Linked DNA regions of Homo sapiens: regions 1 and 2 are each linked to region 3. Evidence: fine-mapped expression QTL. A gene starts in region 3. Each other region holds a variant in brackets. All regions are shown on one strand. Distances are between the middles of the regions. Region 1 overlaps LOC105374505 (a long non-coding RNA gene). Region 2 overlaps PROM1 (prominin 1). Region 3 holds the start of TAPT1 (transmembrane anterior posterior transformation 1).

Evidence for each region. PIP is the estimated chance that this variant, and not a neighbour inherited with it, causes the effect.
Region 1: its variant is the best candidate, but not a certain one, in a credible set for the expression of TAPT1 in whole blood (INTERVAL, PIP 0.62).
Region 2: its variant is the best candidate, but not a certain one, in a credible set for the expression of TAPT1 in aorta (GTEx, PIP 0.62).

What each region holds. Positions count from the first base shown.
Region 1 is chr4:16,403,516-16,407,720 of GRCh38, forward strand. All of the region lies in intron 1 of LOC105374505 (a long non-coding RNA gene), which reads left to right. Among named protein-coding and RNA genes, the nearest start is that of TAPT1-AS1, 180 kb to the left of the region's middle. The variant C/G (reference allele first, on the strand shown) is at 1,619.
Region 2 is chr4:16,033,071-16,037,275 of GRCh38, forward strand. It overlaps PROM1 (prominin 1), which reads right to left. Exons shown (of 28, transcript NM_006017.3): 4 at 2,665-2,691; 5 at 234-439. Among named protein-coding and RNA genes, the nearest start is that of PROM1, 49 kb to the right of the region's middle. The variant C/G (reference allele first, on the strand shown) is at 2,391.
Region 3 is chr4:16,224,327-16,228,531 of GRCh38, forward strand. TAPT1 (transmembrane anterior posterior transformation 1) reads right to left here and starts at 2,145. Exons shown (of 14, transcript NM_153365.3): 1 at 1,933-2,145. The coding sequence starts at 2,131. TAPT1-AS1 (TAPT1 antisense RNA 1) reads left to right here and starts at 2,337. Exons shown (of 3, transcript NR_027697.1): 1 at 2,337-2,851. RefSeq lists silencers at 1,698-2,077, 2,188-2,237, 2,248-2,347, 2,358-2,427, 2,488-2,687 and an enhancer at 3,198-3,257.

The DNA.
Region 1 (4,205 bases), 180 kb after region 3:
TTTTAGGTCTAACATGTACGTCTTTAATCCATCTTGAATTAATTTTTGTATAAGGTGTAAGGAAGGGATCCAGTTTCAGCTTTCTACATATGGCTAGCCAGTTTTCCTAGCACCATTTATTAAATAGGGAATCCTTTCCCCATTGCTTGTTTTTCTCAGGTTTGTCAAAGATCAAATGGTTGTAGATATGTGGCATTATTTCTGAGGGCTCTGTTCTGTTCCATTGATCTATATCTCTGTTTTGGTACTAGTACCATGCTGTTTTGGTTACTGTAGCCTTGCAGTATAGTTTGAAGTCAGGTAGCCTGATGCCTCCAGCTTTGTTCTTTTGGCTTAGGATTGACTTGGCGATGCAGGCTCTTTTTTGGTTCCATATGAAATTTAAAGTAGTTTTTTCCAATTCTGTGAAGAAAGTCATTGGTAGCTTGATGGGGATGGCATTGAATCTATAAATTACCTTGGGCAGTATGGCCATTTTCACGATATTGATTCTTCCTACCCATGAGCATGGAATGTTCTTCCATTTGTTTGTATCCTCTTTTATTTCATTGAGCAGTGGTTTCTGGTTCTCCTTGAAGAGGTCCTTCACATCCCTTATAAGTTGGATTCCTAGATATTTTATTCTCTTTGTAGCAATTGTGAATGGGAGTTCACTCATGATTTGGCTCTCTGTTTGTCTGTTATTGGTGTATAAGAATGCTTGTGATTTTTGTACATTGATTTTGTATCCTGAGACTTTGCTGAAGTTGCTTATCAGCTTAAGGAGATTTTAGGCTGAGACAATGGGGTTTTCTAGATATACAATCATGTCATCTGCAAACAGGGACAATTTGACTTCCTCTTTTCCTAATTGAATGCCCTTTATTTCCTTCTCCTGCCTAATTGCCCTGGCCAGAACTTCCAATACTATGTTGAATAGGAGTGGTGAGAGAGGGCATCCCTGTCTTGTGCCAGTTTTCAAAGGGAATGCTTCCAGTTTTTGCCCATTCAGTATGATATTGGCTGTGGGTTTGTCATAGATAGCTCTTATTATTTTGAGATACATCCCATCAATACCTAAGTTATTGAGAGTTTTTAGCATGAAGGGTTGTTGAATTTTGTCAAAGGCCTTTTCTGCATCTATTGAGATAATCATGTGGTTTTTGTCTTTGGTTCTGTTTATATGCTGGACTACATTTATTGATTTGCGTATATTGAACCAGCCTTGCATCCCAGGGATGAAGCCCACTTGATCATGGTGGATAAGCTTTTTGATGTGCTGCTGGATTCGGTTTGCCAGTATTTTATTGGGGATTTTTGCATCAATGTTCATCAAGGATATTGGTCTAAAATTCTCTTTTTTGGTTTTGTCTCTGCCAGGCTTTGGTATCGGGATGATGCTGGCCTCATAAAATGAGTTAGGGAGGATTCCCTCTTTTTCTATTGATTGGACTAGTTTCAGAAGGAATGGTACCAGCTCCTTTTTGTACCTCTGGTAGAATTCGGCTGTGAATCCATCTGGTCCTGGACTTTTTTTGGCTGGTAAGCTATTGATTATTGCCATAATTTCAGAGCCTGTTATAGGTCCATTCAGAGATTCAACTTCTTCCTGGTTTAGTCTTGGGAGGGTGTATGTGTC[C/G]AGGAATTTATCCATTTCTTCTAGATTTTCTAGTTTATTTGCGTAGAGGTGTTTGTAGTATTCTCTGATGGTAGTTTGTGTTTCTGTGGGATCGGTGGTGATATCCCCATTATCATTTTTTATTGCGTCTATTTGATTCTTCTCTCTTTTCTTCTTTATTAGTCTTGCTAGCAGTCTATCGATTTTCTTGATCTTTTCAAAAAACCAGCTCCTGGATTCATTAATTTTTTGAAGGGCTTTTTGTGTCTCTATCTCCTTCAGTTCTGCTCTGATTTTAGTTATTTCTTGCCTTCTGCTAGCTTTTGAATGTGTTTGTTCTTGCTTTTCTAGTTCTTTTAATTGTGACGTTAGGGTGTCAATTTTGGATCTTTCCTGCTTCCTCTTGTGGGCATTTAGTGCTATAAATTTCCCTCTACACACTGCTTTGAATGTGTCCCAGAGATTCTGGTATGTTGTGTCTTTGTTCTGGTTGGTTTCAAAGAACATCTTTATTTCTGCCTTCATTTCATTATGTACCCAGTAGTCACTCAGGAGCAGGTTGTTCAGTTTCCATGTTGTTGAGCGGTTTTGAGTGAGTTTCTTAGTCCTGAGTTCTAGTTTGATTGCACTGTGGTCTGAGAGACAGTTTGTTATAATTTCTGTTCTTTTACATTTGCTCAGGAGTGCTTTACTTCCAACTGTGTGGTCAATTTTGGAATAGGTGTGGTGTGGTGCTGAAAAAAATGTATATTCTGTTGATTTGGGGTGGAGAGTTCTGTAGATGTCTATTAGGTCCGCTTGGTGCAGAGGTGAGTTCAATTCCCGGGTATCCTTGTTAACTTTCTGTCTCGTTGATCTGTCTAATGTTGACAGTGGGGTGTTAAAATCTCCCATTATTATTGTGTGGGAGTCTAAGTCTCTTTGTAGGTCACTAAGGACTTGCTTTATGAATCTGGGTGCTCCTGTATTGGGTGCATATATATTTAGGATAGTTAGCTCTTCTTGTTGAATTGATCCCTTTACCATTATGTAATGGCCTTCTTTGTCTCTTTTGATCTTTGTTGGTTTAAAGTCTGTTTTATCTGAGACTAGGATTGCAACCCCTGCCTTTTTTTGTTTTCCATTTGCTTGGTAGATCTTCCTCCATCCCTTTATTTTGAGCCTATGTGTGTCTCTGCACATGAGATGGGTTTCCTGAATACAGCACACTGATGGGTCTTGACTCTTTATCCAATTTGCCAGTCTGTGTCTTTTAATTGGAGCATTTAGCCCATTTACATTCAAAGTTAATATTGTTATGTGTGTATTTGGTCCTGTCTTTATGATGTTAGCTGGTTATTTTGCTCGTTAGTTGATGCAGTTTCTTCCTAGCCTTGATGGTCTTTACATTTTGGCATGTTTTTGCAGTGGCTGGTACCGGTTGTTCCTTTCCATGTTTAGTGCTCCCTTCAGGAGCTCTTTTAGGGCAGGCCTGGTGGTGACAAAATCTCTCAGCGTTTGCTTGTCTGTAAAGTATTTTATTTCTCCTTCACTTATGAAGCTTAGTTTGGCTGGATATGAAATTCTGGGTTGAAAATTCTTTTCTTTAAGAATGTTGAATATTGGCCCTCACTCTCTTCTGGCTTGTAGAGTTTCTGCTGAGAGATCTGCTGTTAGTCTGATGGGCTTCCCTTTGTGGGTAACCCGACCTTTCTCTCTGGCTGCCCTTAACATTTTTTCCTTCATTTCAACTTTGGTGAATCTGACAATTATGTGTCTTGGAGTTGCTCTTGTTGAGGAGTATCTTTGTGGCGTTCTCTGTATTTCCTGAATCTGAATGTTGGCCTGCCTTGCTAGATTGGGGAAGTTCTCCTGGATAATATCCTGCAGAGTGTTTTCCAGCTTGTTTCCATTCTCCCCATCGTTTTCAGGTACACCAATCAGACGTAGATTTGGTCTTTCCACATAGTCCCATATTTCTTGGAGGCTTTGTTCATTTCTTTTTATTCTTTTTTTCTCTAAACTTCCCTTCTGACTTCATTTCATTCATTTTGTCTTCCATCACTGATACCCTTTCTTCCAGTTGATCACATCAGCTCCTGAGGCTTCTGCATTCTTCACGTAGTTCTCGAGCCTTGACTTTTGGCTCCATCAGCTCCTTTAAGGACTTCTCTGCGTTAGTTATTTTAGTTATCCATTCGTCTAATTTTTTTTCAAAGTTTAAAACTTCTTTGCCATTGGTTTGAATTTCCTCCTGTAGCTCGGAGTACTTTGATTGTCTGAAGCCTTCTTCTCTCAGCTCCTCAAAGTCATTTTCCGTCCAGCTTTGTTCTGTTGCTGGTGAGGAGCTACGTTCCTTTGGAGGAGGAGAGGCGTTCTGCTTTTTAGAGTTTCCAGTTTTTCTGCTCTGCTTTTTCCCCATCTTTGTGGTTTTATCTACTTTTGGTCTTTGATGATGGTGACGTACAGAAGGGTTTTTGGTGTGGATGTCCTTTCTCTTTGTTAGTTTTCCTTCTAACAGACAGGACCCTTAGCTGCAGGTCTGTTGGAGTTTGCTAGAGGTCCACTCCAGACCCTGTTTGCCTGGGTATCAGCAGCGGTGTCTGTAGAACAGTGGATCTTGGTGAAC
Region 2 (4,205 bases), 190 kb before region 3:
CTGGCTCATCAGCTCAGCTGGGGCAGCTTCATTACAACGCTAATGTCTGATGATAATGAGATCCTTTCGAATCACTCTAGACAAGCGCTTGTGCTCTCTCTTTTCTGTTTGGTGGGTTTTTTTTTCATTGTTGCTATTTTGTTTAGTTTTAAACTCATGGTTTAACCATAAAAATGTGAGACACTCTTCATCAGCCTAAAACACAATCAGTTGTTGTCCAATATTGTACTTGCCTTATTATTATACAAATCACCAACAGGGAGATTGCAAAGCATTTCCTCAGGAAGGGCCCATTTTCCTTCTGTCGCTGGTGCATTTCTCCACCACATTTGTTACAGCAACGACACATACAAAAGAAATACCCCACCAGAGGCATCAGAATAATAAACAGCAGCCCCAGGACACAGCATAGAATAATCCCTGCTTCATAGTAGACAATCTGCAATTCAAACAAAAGAAACAGCACATATTGTAGCACAAAATAATAAGTAGAACATTCCATGGTGTACAAAGTTCTTTTTTTTTTTTTTTTTTTTTGAGACAGGGTCTCGCTCTGTTGCCCAGGCTGGAGCGCAGTGGCGCGATTTCGGCTCACTGCAACCTCTGCCTCCTGGGTTCAAGCGATTCTTGGGCCTCAGCCTCCCGAGTACTGTATTTTTAGTAGAGACAGGGTTTCACCATGTTGTCCAGGCTGGTCTTGAACTCCTGGCCTCAAGCAATCTACCTGCCTCAGCCTCCCAAAGTGCTGGGATTACAGGTGTAAGCCACCGCACCTGGCCATGTTTCATTTTTTTAACCTATCTGCCATCATTAGTTGAATCTGAATGTGTACATATATATATATATATATGTATGTATTTTTTTCCATTTTGAAACTCCTTTTTGAAACAGAGGAAGCAGAGAATTGAGTAATTAAATACATGGCCAAGTGGTTACTGGAAGATGTCTTTCAACCCCTAGGAAGATGTCTAAATGCTAGTTTGAGCTGCAAATGGTTTAATTTTAACCCCAAAGGTATTTTGTTTGTTTTTAAATGGATCAATAAATCTTGGCAGGAGTACTTGCATAACAATCTACATATAAGGCGCTTTGCACACTGCAAAAATAGAAGTTAAAGATTCAAAGCACTTTGGATTGGCTGGCAAACAATTACTCAAGAATCTGGAATGTATCTTAATTTAGAAAAAAGGCTCAGACTCTAAGTCAGGCACGTTAAACACAGGCCAGTCACAAGGTTCCTCCTCTGATACACTGGAAATAATAATACGTACCTTGTCAAGTCATTGTGAAAATTAGAGATAACGCATGATTAGAAATAATGTGACAAAGGACCAAGCACTGAGTAGACACTTACTAAAGGTGCCTCTCATGCCATGCCCAGGAGCCAGATCCACAGTGAAGGACCGACCTTGGCAGTCCGTGTCTCAGACGGTTCCTGAGTTCCTAGGAACAGCACAATTTCTAGATACAATCATGTGACCTAAACATATTTTCATAATCACTGCTGACTTTATTCCGGGATAAACGAAAATTAATGCAACTAGATGATGAAACTTGATGTCATTCCAATTCATGCATGTAGCTGCTTATATTTCTAAAGAATGGCAGAAAATTGCAAGTTGGCAGTTTGCAACTAAATGGACAATCTAGACAGCTGCGAATTCTGAAGCCAAGCTGAGCAAAGGAAAATAAAACACGAGTCTTGTTCCTGGGAGCAAATGTGATGTCTTGGAGGAGAGACCTGCTTTACATCCCAGCAGGGGGCTTCCAGGTCCCTAAAGTGGATGGTGTCACATTAGCATTAACTTCATAAACATATTGTGAGGGACAAATAACTAAATGACTGAATGTGAAAACAACTAGCCAAGTGCCCAGCACACAGTAGATATTCAATAAATGGTAGTTAACTCTATGAGCAAATGCTCAAGACTAGTAAATCTGGTGCATCTGGCACTTGAATATTATCTACTTCCATATTAAGATTAAATTGCTTAAAAAAAAGAGTGGCTGAATCTTGCTGGGTTCATCAAGTATGTGCTCACGCTTAAGCTAACCCCCATCCCATGTCCACGAAGAGGCATTATTAGGGGACTTAACCCTTCCTCGAGGACCAATACCACTTGTCAGTTAAGAAACCAGCCCAGACATTCCAAACTCTTACTTACGTATTTTTCCATCATTTCTCAGCAAATATTCTAAATTGTTTACTATTTTAAAGAAATGTAAATTCTATCTGAATTCCAGGAGACACTGAACCAAAACCCAGGAGAGAAGATATATTGAAATGTTTTAAATGCACTAATTTTAGCTTTAAATACAAATTGTACATTTGATAACACAGCCTTTCTAATGTTACTGACTAAATATCAGGCAGTATCAGGAACAAGATA[C/G]GGCATTTCAAGAGTTCACTTCTAGGCCGACTAGACGAAGGCCTGTCACTACTTAAACTGTTTTTTGATACACCAAGATCTTCCAGTGCTTTGTTGATTGTGTTGAAGATCAACATGTAAATATTACAGAGATATCTTTCTTCAAAGAGAAGGTTAAAAGTGATGGTAAAAACAGAAATGAAACGGATCATTTAAAAATCTTCACAGTGAGGATGACAGTGAAGAACAGAAAGGCTTTCCAAGAGCAACTTGAAATAGCAGACAAGGACTTTACCTTTAGACCTAAGATTACAGTTTCTGGCTGTAGAAGTCAACGCAGGTGAGGAATTTTGGCAGAGGCAGCATGCATCAAGAAAACAGACAGAAAAAGTTATGAGTGATCAACCATAACCAAGAACATTCATATCCCACAAGGAGGAAATTGGGTGATAGAAGGATAAACATGAGAAAGGAATATAAAACTTGAGTGTGAATTCAAGAAACAGTGTTTTAAGTTGCTCTGAGTTCTGAAATTTACATTTGCATTTACATTTGGATTTCCCAAAAGGTTCTTAATCCGTATGCTAATCGGTTACGCAAAGGAGAATTAGAGGGGAAGTTACAAATGCTTAACACACTAACCATGTGATCTTCATAAAATAGAGAATCAGATCTGAGAACTCCAGAACCAACGGCAGCATCTTCCCAAGTGCCCTTTTCTAAAATAAAAATCTGATGGTGTTATTCCCATGCTTAAAGCGATCAACGGATTCCCACCATTTTTATTCCAAACATCTCAATGTTTGATTTTAAATGTCCTTTCGTGGCAAAATAAAATTAGGTGGCTCTATGTCATTTTCTAGATCACTTTTTTGAAATATTCTGGTCCAGGAAATCTAAAAGTGTAGAAACTATTGCCTCAGCTGGCAGATCTTCACAGCTCTGAGGGAACACCATTTGTGATGGGAATCACTTTTAAATGAGGCATCCAAAATACTGGGACTGGGGGGCAGTTCAGATATACCTGCCTCTGGGGTCACACAGGGCATTTTAAATGATCCCGGTCTCCCTTTCTTGGGGAAGGGGCACGCAGGCTTGTTACCAACCAGGGCACAAGCTCCCAAGCTCACCAGACACAAAGAAGCACCTCACAGTGTGTGTTAAAGAAAAACATTGACTCCTGGGCTCCTCTGCTACAGCACATGAGTCAGAAGATATGGGTAAGACCAGGAATCTGTGTTCCCTGAGCCTCCCAAATAAACGACTTGCCCTGGAGTCATTGGTGTAGGGTCTGCTTCAGGGGGAACCAACCCAACACACTCAGCCTTTATCAGACTAAATCTAGTCAGAAAGCCCTCCTCTAGATGTGGCCTGGATCCTTTGGTGCCTTTGTTTAATTAACCTCTTTCTTTGGATAATGGTAGAAAGCATGGTCCAGTTCCACATCTAGAGTAGGAATCAGCTCATTCATGTGGGCTCAGTTCTGCATCTTCTCTCCACTGCACCCCCACCCAGAGTTTTTATTCATTTGCAAAGGCAAGGAAAGAGAGCAGGAGCCAGGGGTATAAACCAAGGTTATGGGAGTGCCAAATCTAATACCAAGTCAAGCACAAAGACCCTGCCAGGGACGGTGGCAGCCCAGCTCCAGCTCAGACTCACAGGTTCCTCAAGGCCACCTAAGGGTCTCAGGACCTCGTTCTCCAAGTCCCGGATCCCACTGAAGCACTGCCCCTACTCTCATTCCTTGGTTGGCATTCGGGCTGGCTAAGCATGTTATGCTAATTTTGAATATAAATATAAAAGCAACTGTCATTTTCTTCCCCCCAGAGATACAGG
Region 3 (4,205 bases):
TAATTGTTTCTAGTGGGGAAACCTCTAACAAATATGGTTATCGGAGCTACAGACTGGGTGCTAGCAGTGGCAGGAGCTATGTGACTAGCAGAGCAGGGACACCAGGGGAAAAGAAGGAGGGGCTTATGTGGAGGCTCAGAGAGAACACTGGCCAGTGGCTCCAGCTGAAATACTCCTGGAATTTGGAATTCTCACCTAAATCCTGATCGCCAAGGCTAGTGTGACTTGGTAAAGCAGGAGTGGCCACTGACATCTCCTCACACAAAATCAATGGAACTGGGGAAAGAACAAGGACTACCCCAACAGCTAAACCTGGAGGCATCTCCCTGATAATGACTTCCTGCAACTATGGGTTAAAAAAAATCCAGCCTTAAACATGGTGAACCATGTTGGTGAAGAATGGATACGTGGTATAATGAAGTCCATGGAAGTCCAGGTATCCAGTCCCAGAAAAAGCCAGGGAAGAAGTGTTAAGTGATACTGCAAGCTCAAGATCTGTGCTCATCAATAGGCTTCAAACAACTTCATTTCCTCTCCACGCAAACAACAAAAAAAGGCTTTTAAAATGGTGGCTTTCCTGCAACTGAGAAATGTTTTAAAGAAAGTATAGTGAAGCCTGGCTACATCTATCTCTATTTACAACAGAGTGCTTTTAATATTCAAGTCTAAGTAAGTAAACAGACAGTTGAGAGATTTGCTATTTTGTCTTACTGAGATCCTGCCAATGAAGAAAGTAAATACTCTTGAAAGCAAATGTTTAACTGAGAACTAAACCAAATAAAGTATGGTTGAGAATTTTTAAGTGGTTAATTGAAAAAGACCAAACAAGACCGTCTGTAATTTTCCAAAAATATAGACTGCTTCAAATAGAACCTACGTCCAGTTCTGGGAATCAGCAAATCAATTAGAATCGCATCTGATCAACTTTATGCCCCTTAAGTAGTTTTAAAATTTCAGTACTCAAGTACAATCAATGATGTAATCAGCCTCACAACTTAGTTATTTGCATGAACTTCAGGAAATAACGGCTAACACAGCCCCTTTTGGACAACAGAAGTAATTTTTTAGTTGGAAGAAATTTAATGGAGTTATGGTTCAGTTGCTGTTTACAGCTTGAGAATTAAAACGTTGGGTTCACTCTATATTCAAGAAGACATCCATCTCAAAACCTTTTTTCATTTAAAACTAATCTGTAACTGCAATATGAATACAAATGCAAGTTTTAAAAATTCTTTTAAAATGAGAATAAAAACCTACAGCTTATAGAAACTGTAACATTGTAACAATACGTTTAAAACTGGTCATTGAATGTAGGATTCATAAGTACACATTTTCTCATCTAGTAATTTTTTTGGCATAAGTTTCAGTTCAGGAAAAGTTCAGATGCAACATTTTATGGAGTGTTAAATATTTCTGTACTGGGCAAAACTACTGAACTTCATGGTCACTACCACACCGTCAGCTGTCTGTGAAAAATCTACTTGCAGGGCAAGTTAACAGGTTTCTATGGCTCAAGTTTGCTTAAAATACAGAACAAAAAAAGTCACCTTGGCATGAATATAATTAAGAAATCAGCCGTGTGCTTCTCACGTTTGGGCTCCGAGACGTGGGAGATGCCCGCTAACCTAAGACCTTCCGAGGGCGATGCAAGGACCCGGACAGAACTTTCCCGGCCGCAGACCCCTTCTAGGGCACACCTGGCCTGGCGCGGCCGCGGGGGCCTCGGGGCTGCGCGCGCAACCCGCCCGAGGAACTGTCAACGGCCGCGGAGCCTCGGCAGCCTCGGCGGCTCCGCGCGCCCACAGCCTGGGGAGCCCCGGGAGGCAACGGCAGCCGCGCGGCTCGGGGGCCGGGGTTCCAAGGCGCCCCCGCCGCCCTCGGTCCCCAGTCCGCCCCTCGGAGCCCGCCACGGCCTAGCGCCGCCCGCCTCACCTGTGCGGCCCCGGCGCCTCTCCCGCCGCCGGTCGCTCTCGTAGAAGCCCAGCGTCTCTGTGAGCTGAGGCGCCGGCGGGGGCCCCTGTCCGCCGCTGCCGCCCGGCTGCTCCGCCTCGCCGCGGCCGTCCCGCTGCGGGCCGTCCACGCCGCCACCGCCGCCTTCTCCCGGAGCGGCCGCGTCGCCGACGCCCGCCATGTTCCGAGCACAACAAACTGTCCCCGCCGCCTCCCTCCAGCCTCTGCCTCCGGCCGGCCCCCTCCCCGCCTCGCCCCGCCCCTCGCCGGAGCCCGAGCCGCCGCCGCCGCCGCCGCCATCCGCGGCCCGCCGACCGGCGCGAGCCATTGGCGTCAGCGACGCGTGTGAGGCCGCTGCCGCCGCCGCCGCCGCCACGGTAGCCGCCATCTTCTTCCTGCCCTCGCCGTGGCGGGCGACGGTTTCTCGCGCCGTGGCTGGCTCGGCCGGCCGGGGCACCGCGCCGGGCTCCATGCAGCCGGGCTGCGCGGTCCCGCAGAGCGGGCGCCTCCGGGGCTCGAGTCGGGGACCCGGCAGGAGCGGGCCGGGGATGGCGGCGGCGGGCGGCGGGTCGGCCGTGGAGCCCCGGAGAGGCGGCCGCCACCACCGCTGCCCGCAGTCTGCGAGGTGTCCGGCGGTCCGCTCAGGGCCTCTTTTGCAGACTCGGTGCCCGGAGTGCGCCGGCGCCGCCCGCCAGGTCTTGGCACTGCTGGCGCGGCCGCGGCGGCGGGGGCCCGGCTCCAGATCACCGACCCCCACGAGCGCCGGCCCTGCCTGCCCGCTATTTTGGTTCCATCTCTTCTGCATATTTATGCTTGCCTGTTACATTCCCTGGCCTCTGAGTGTCCTTTGGCAGTTTCCAAAGCATTTGGGCAAGAAGGAGCTTGGGCAGCTTCACAACAGGTGGGGACGCGCAGGGGAGGGGCCGCGGCCGGACCGGCAGAGTTTCAAGGGCTGGCGCGCCGGCGGACTTTCCACACTGTCTTTCGGGACTGGGGTTAGGAGACAGCCCTTGGCCACCACTGTGTCCTTACTTTGTCGCTTTACTTGGGGCTGGACCTCCCCTTTCCAGCTCTGGCGTGTGACCCCGCAACGAGCGTGGTGTCGAGACCACCACCAGCTGGGGCGGTGGGAGCGAAGGTGCCCCAGGCTCGGGGAAGGTGGAAACCTTTTCCCCGCTCCCCAAGTGATTGTTGCGCGCTCCGGTGAGGGGACAGTGGTACCTCGATTTCCCGTGTGCCAGCTTCGGGACTCAGCTGTGCTTTTGTGTCTCTTTGATTAGCAAAAGCAAAACGAATTCCTCCCCGAACACTAAGCTTCCTGGAAACTTCCCTAGACCTAAACTTGAGAACCGCATATAAATGGGCCTTGAGGGTTCTGTCGTCAGTAGCGGGTTACGTGATTGCAAACGAGCAAGTTTAAAACGGAGTGGGCTTTGGGCTGCAGAGCCGCCTGGCATTCTGACAGCTGAGCAGGAGGCAGAGGTGAGAGTCCAAGATGGACTAAAAATGTCCCAGCAGCTGGGAGCCCAACCTCGGCCCAACCTCGTTGAAAGGAGGAACATTCGGTGCAGCCGTCGGAACCTTATTATTTATGAAAGGGGACAGCTCACAGGATTACATTTTTCTAAGCCAATCCTGTGACCATCCTCCATGAAATTCTCTATTTTGGTTGCATGTGGTCAAAACTGAGCCTCACTGAAACAATTGAAAACAAATACTCCCGACAAATCTTAAGAATCGTTTTGAAAATCAAAAGGTGGGGAAAATGTTGTGGCTTCTGAGCTTTCTTCAGCCCATATTCTATTATTCTCTGATGTTTTATGGTGTAAAATCATACCCATTCCATTATGTATTGATTGTCAAGAAGGAAGTAGGCTTTTATTGCTATTTTTATGTCAGTTTCCATTTACTGTCTCACCACATTTATTGGGTTATTGCCTTTGCCTTTGACTCAACAGGAGCTGGAAGGGTAGGAATCCCAAATTCTGTTGCCTAAGGCAGCCAGTTGTCAGAATGGACTTTCCTCATTTTCTATTATGAGGCCTGAGGAAAGACATTCAGTTCCAAAGGCTGTGCCTATCCTTTTAAATAGAAGAGAGAGGGCCCGGCACGGTGGCTCACGCCTGTAATCCCAGCAGTTTGGGAGGCCGAAGGGGGCGAATCACGAGGTCAGGAGTTCCAGACCAGCCTGGCCAACATAGTGAAACCCCGTGTCTACTAAAGATACAAATATTAGCCGGGCGTAATGGCGGGCG